Linked DNA regions of Homo sapiens: region 1 is linked to region 2. The links come from fine-mapping of genetic effects on gene expression. A gene starts in region 2. The other region holds a variant in brackets. All regions are shown on one strand. Distances are from middle to middle. Region 1 overlaps TPST2 (tyrosylprotein sulfotransferase 2). Region 2 holds the start of CRYBB1 (crystallin beta B1).

Region 1 (2,905 bases), 39 kb before region 2:
ATGCATATAGTGCTTACTGTGTGCCTGGGGGGTTTTCTACACACTTTACAAATATTTGCTCTTTTTTTTTTTGAGACAAGGTCTCGCTCTGTCGCCCAGGCTGAAGTGTAGTGGCACTATCTTGGCTCACTGTAACTTCCACCTCCCAGGTTCAAGCGATTCTCCTGCCTCATCCTCCCGAGTAGTAGCTGGGACTACAAGTGTGTGCCACCATGCCCAGCTAATTTTTTGTATTTTTTTAGTAGAGATGGGGTTTCACCGTGTTAGCCAGGATGGTCTCGAACTCCTGACCTTGTAATCTGCCCGCCTTGGCCTCCCAAAGTGCTGGGATTACAGGTGTGAGCCACTGCACCCGGCCATTTTTTTTTTTTTTTTTTTTTTTGAGACAGAGTCTCACTCTGTCTGCCACCCAGGCTGGAATGCAGTGGCACAAGCTCGGCTCACTGCAACCTCCATCTCCCAGGTTCAAGTGATTCTCCTGCCTCAGCCTCCTGAGTAGCTGGGATTACAGGCTTGAGCCACCATGCCTGGCTAATTTTTGTATTTTTAGTAGAAATGGGGTTTCACCATGTTGGCCAGGCTGGTCTCAAACTCCTGACCTCAGGAGGAGGTCTAGACCTCCTAAAGTGCTAGGATTACAGGCATTAGCCACCATGCCTGGCCGAGTTTCATTTCTTAGATCTCACCCACAGGAGAGAAAACATTATCATGTAGCTGGAGGAAGGAATATCAGTAATGTTCATGAGTAAACATCAAAATGTATTATTATCTTTAAGAATTACCAAAAGGAATTTCAATTAAAATCAATTATATAGGCTGGTCTTGAACTCCTGACCTCAGGTGATCCGCGCATCTCCGCCTCCCAATCGCTCATTTAATCCTCACAACTAATCTATGAGGACAGTGCTCTGTCATTCCATTTTACAGCTGAGGAAGCCAAGGCACAGAAAGGTGAAGTCGTTGCCTGAGATCTCACAGCAGGTTTTAGCGCCCGTGTGCTTCGTCTGCTGCACCTCTACTACCCCAGCTCTCAACGTGGGTTCTCTGACCAGCAGGAACAGCGCTTAGGAACCTACACAAAATGCAGATTATCAGGGCTCAAGGAGACCACGCTGAATGGGAACTCTGGAAGTGGGGTACAGCAACCTGT[G/A]TTGAAGAAGCCCTCCATCCACGGTGAGGTCAGCAACCTCCGACCCTGCAAACCTGACCACGCTCTGCGATCCTCAGGACTGTGCCATGGGGACTATGCCTGGGGACCCCAAGGTCCTCAGAGAAGGAAGATTTTGCCCAGAGTCCCGCAGTAGGTAGAGGAGAGCAAACCAGGCCTCGAACCAGAATCTCCCATCTCTCAGAAGTCGGTGTCTACACAACAACCGCTGAGGGATGTCAAAGCAGCCACCAGCTCAACACAGGGGTGCACTGTTCCCAGTTTCTGAGGCATGGAAGACCCAGACCCCATTATTTCCAAGCTATTTGCATGATCCAGAACAAGTTACCTCAACTCTCTGGGCCTCAGTTTCCCCATCTGTGAAAAGAAAAAGCTGGACCCTATTTCTTTCTTTCTTTTTTTTTTTTTTTTGAGACGGGGTCTCACTCTGTCACCCAGGCTAGAGTGCAGTGGCGTGATCTTGGCTCACTGCAGCCTTGACCTCCCAGGCTCAAGCAATCCTCCCACCTCAGCCTCCAAAGTAGCTGGGAATAAAGCATGCACCACCATGCCCGGCTGATTTTTGTACTTTTTTGTAGAGACAGGGTTTCGCCATGTTGCTCAGGCTGGTCTTGAACCCCTGAGCTCACGCAAGTGATCCGCCCGCATTGGCCTCCCAGAGTGCTGGGATTATGGGTGTGAGCCACTGTGCCCAGCCTGGAGGCAAGACTCAGTTTCTAACCTTGTTTTTCTTCCCAAAACTCTTAGCCATCAAATATGCACTGCTGGTCTACTGTGCACTTGAGCAAGGAATGACCACGTAGCAGAATGAAGGGCAAAGGCACCTACTGCATGCAGCTTCCAGCAGTGCTCAGAGGAAGGGTAGCCGACACTCCCCCAGTACCCCAAACCAAATCAAACCAAAAACAGCATCTGCCGTCCTGCTGCTAGCCCAGGCTTCCTCTTCTTCCCCACAGCCCTGGGGCCCGGTGGGGAAGGGAGGGCCCTGGGGGCGTGGAAAGGGTGTGGGTTGAGAGGAAACCATGGCCTTGTAGGGCGGCCTTGCCAGGTGCCTGACTCCACAGGGCCTCTGTCTTCCACCTGGGAAGTAGCTACTACCACTTTCTCACACCTCCAAAGGTTTCTGGCTGAGCCCCCGGGCTCTGCAAGGGTCCGGATGGTTCTGTGGCAGGATGTCAGCCACCAGCCAAAGCAAGTGGGATGAAAAGTTTTTAATGAGAGAAAGGAAGGGCCGTGCTGGCACCTGTGTGGGCTTGGGGTCGGCAGCGGGAAGGAAGGGGGAAGTGGTGCAGATTGGGGCGGAAGAAGACAGAGAGAGAAAAAAACAGACAGAGGCAGAGACAGAGGGAGATAGAGACAGAGGATGTAGATGGGGAGAGAGAGTCAGAGGAGAGGCAAAGATGGGAGTAAGACAGAAAGAGTGACAGAGACAGGGAAAGACGTGAGTTGGGGGGATGGGTGGGAGGGAGAGAGAGGCAGGGAGACAAAAATAGAAACCAAGACAAGTTGGGTACAGAGGCTTACGTCTGTAATCCCAGTACTTTGGGAGGCTGAGGCAGGTGGATTGCTTGAGCCCAGGAGTTCAAGACCAGCCTGAACAACATAGTGAGACCCCATTTCTACAAAAAATAAAAAATGAACCAGGTGTGGTGGTCTGTACCTGTAGTCCCAGCTACTCGAGAGGCTGAGGCAGGAGAATTGCTTGAGCCCAGGAGTTCAAGGCTGCAATGCTGCCCC
Region 2 (2,905 bases):
TCCACACTGCTTATCACACTGATTTGCTTGTGCAACTCCAATTTGCCTCCCTAGACTAATAACAAGAAGTCCCATTTGGGAGTACTTAAGGTGTGCCAGGCACTGTGACATACATTAATTAACCCATCTGACCATGAACCTCACCCGATGGAGTAGCTGCTATCATGATCCCCTCTGAGCAGCAGGGGGCTGGAGAAGGAAGGGGCCCAGCTCAGGCCCAAACAGCTACTAAGTGGTAGGGCTCTGATTTCAACTCAAGGAAATGGAGCCAGCAACTGGGCTTTTAAAGTATTCTGCCATTTGCTTAATCTGATTTATTCACCGTCCATCCCTAACACTTGCTCTGCACCTGGCACATAGGAGATGCCCAATTAACATTTGTTCAGAGAATGAATGAATGCATGCTCCCAGCTCCTTTCCCCGTCTGCTTCCTCTGAGGGGTTGGTGTATGGGTGCAAATACAGGCCGGGGACTGAGGCTTATGGGAGGACCCAAGAGGATGTATTTACTGCATGTGGAGGGTTCTGAAAATGAGGACTGGGGCTGGGTAGGCTTTGGGTGGAGAGGGCTTTGGTCAATTCCAGTGGTTCCTTGTTGCTTTGGGGTCGTGGACTCCTTTGAATGTTTGATGAATACCTCAACTTTGTCCCCGGACAAAAATAATGCTCTCTTTAACTTTGGAGACAATGTTAAGGGATTTGAGGACCCCCTGCTAGCACAGATTAAGACCCTCTGGTCAAGCTGATTCCCGAACACATTCTGTAAGGCGGAGCTAGTTGGGATAAGCACATCCCTCCCCCAGCCTCCTCCAGGAAGGCTGTGCATATTCTGGGGTGCCCCCTGTTCACCAGGGGTGAGGCCAGACATCTGGACCACATCTGTGGCTTTAAACACTCCCCCAGGGCTGGCAGCTGGACTCATGCCTTCCTGGAGATATTCTCATTCTCTCTCTCTCCCTGCTTCACCCTCTCCCTCTGTTCCTCCTCTCTTCCCTGTCTTTGCCTCTCTATCTGTTTCTTACTTCTCTCCCTCTTTCTGCCTATCTGCCTGTCTGTTTCTCTCCCTCTCTGTTCCTCTCTCCCCCACTATCTCTCCCTCATTGTATCTTTGCTTATCTCTCTATCTGTCCTTTTTAATTATATTTACTTCTCTCTCTATTTCTGTCTTTTCTCACTCTCTCCCCTCTCCCTCTCCCTCCCTTTCTTCCTCTCTCCACTTCCGTCTTTATCTCCATGGCCCTGCTCTCTGACTCTCATGGCACTGCTATCTCTGCCTCCCTCTCTCTGTCTCCCTTTTCTCTTCCCCTCCCCTTCAGCTCTCAGCTGGGCTGTGGGTTCCCTCTTACCTGGGGACTTGCTACTTCCTGCTGGAGGACAGGCAGGCGGGCAGGTGCTATGGGTGACTAGAGTCCGACCCCCCATTTTATAGTCTGGCAGACATCAGGCCCTATAGTCTGTGGCACAAAGGGGAAGCTGGCTCAGCAGGCCTGGGCAGGGAGTGGGGGACTGGGGCCCTGACCTCGCCTGGATCACTGCAGACAGCAGCACTTTCCTTTGTGAGACCAGCACACACAGCAGAAACCCTGGCCACAGCAGCTTCACCTTCCAACCCTACCCTGACTCCTTTCTCAACAACCCCAGCCAGGGATGGGCCCCCAAAAGGGTCCCTGCTGGCTGCCAACATGGGGCAGGGAAAAGGGGAGACCCTGGGAGGCAGGAGACCAGAGTTTGAATCCTGACTCAGCCACTGCGCGCTGTGTGGCTTTTGGTAGGTCTCTACCCCTAGGGGGGCCTCTGTGTCTGCAATTATAAGGTGGGCACGTGTCCCTGTTGGATGCCATATAGAAAAGAAGGTGACAATGAGCACAGAAGCGTTTTGTAAAGGCAGATGTGGGTTTGATATGGACAGCCTTTTTTACGGAGTGCTTACTGTGTGCCGAACCCGTGTTATCTCGGTCAGTCCCCGGGACAATCTGCCTTATTTGGTACTTTCATTATGCCCATTTCACAGAAGAGGAAAGTGAAGGCACAGAGAGGTCAGAGCCAGCCCAGGCCAGCCAGCTCTGGGCCTGTGTGCTTTCTTCTCCTGCTGTCCAGCCTTGACCTTGGCCTGAGGCCCCCTGGCCTGACTTCCTCTTTGTAGGTTGGGGTGGGAATGGGAGAGTCGCACTGTGCTCAGCTGGGTTGGATATCGGAGACCTGGGTCTTTTTCTTTTCCCCACATTGGGCCCCATCCTTTCCTGACCTATCGACAGTGATCCCTCTCGCCACCCCAGTTCCCCGCCTCTACCCAGGCCACGTTATCTGACCTGGAGGACAGTGCTGGTGGCCAGAAATATGACTGCCTGTCCCAGAGCCTCCTGCCCTGGCAAGCCCCAGATGCCCACCACATCTTGTTCACCACTGGCCCCAGCACCTAGCTGGGCCTGGCTAGGTAGAGCTTGGCACATCATGGGTTCTCAGTCAATAACTGGTGACTCAATGGTGGTTCCAATGGATCGGAACAGAAGGTAGGGTACGGAGGAGATAGGGAAACCAAGGCAAGGAGAGAGAAGTAAGGAGGCAGATAGAAGTAACAGACAAAGAGAGAGGTGGAGACAGAGACACAGAGAGGCACAGGGGACATGGACAGTGAAGGAGCGAGAGACGGAGAGACAGAGGTCAAGTTGGGGTGATCAAGCCTCAGGACGGAGGAACAGACGCCAGAAATCACAGGGCCCAATCCTCCCATTTCACAAATGGAGAAACCGAGGCCCAGGTGGAACAAATGACTTCAACATAGTCACATGGCGGGAACTCACAGTACAGCTGGGGTCAGAAGGAGCCTGGGGAGCTGCTCAGCTAGGTCACCTGCAGTCGGCTCCCCAGTCCCAGGCAGGGTATATTGCGGGGGCATCTGGATAGGC

What was found. PIP is the estimated chance that this variant, and not a neighbour inherited with it, causes the effect.
Region 1: its variant is the best candidate, but not a certain one, in a credible set for the expression of CRYBB1 in whole blood (TOPMed, PIP 0.67).

What each region holds. Positions count from the first base shown.
Region 1 is chr22:26,577,291-26,580,195 of GRCh38, forward strand. All of the region lies in intron 1 of TPST2 (tyrosylprotein sulfotransferase 2), which reads right to left. Among named protein-coding and RNA genes, the nearest start is that of TPST2, 11 kb to the right of the region's middle. RefSeq lists enhancers at 2,243-2,292, 2,484-2,905 and a silencer at 2,433-2,512. The variant G/A (reference allele first, on the strand shown) is at 1,151.
Region 2 is chr22:26,616,632-26,619,536 of GRCh38, forward strand. CRYBB1 (crystallin beta B1) reads right to left here and starts at 1,396. Exons shown (of 6, transcript NM_001887.4): 1 at 1,346-1,396. It also overlaps a transcript of CRYBA4 not described here. RefSeq lists enhancers at 450-1,127, 1,806-2,481.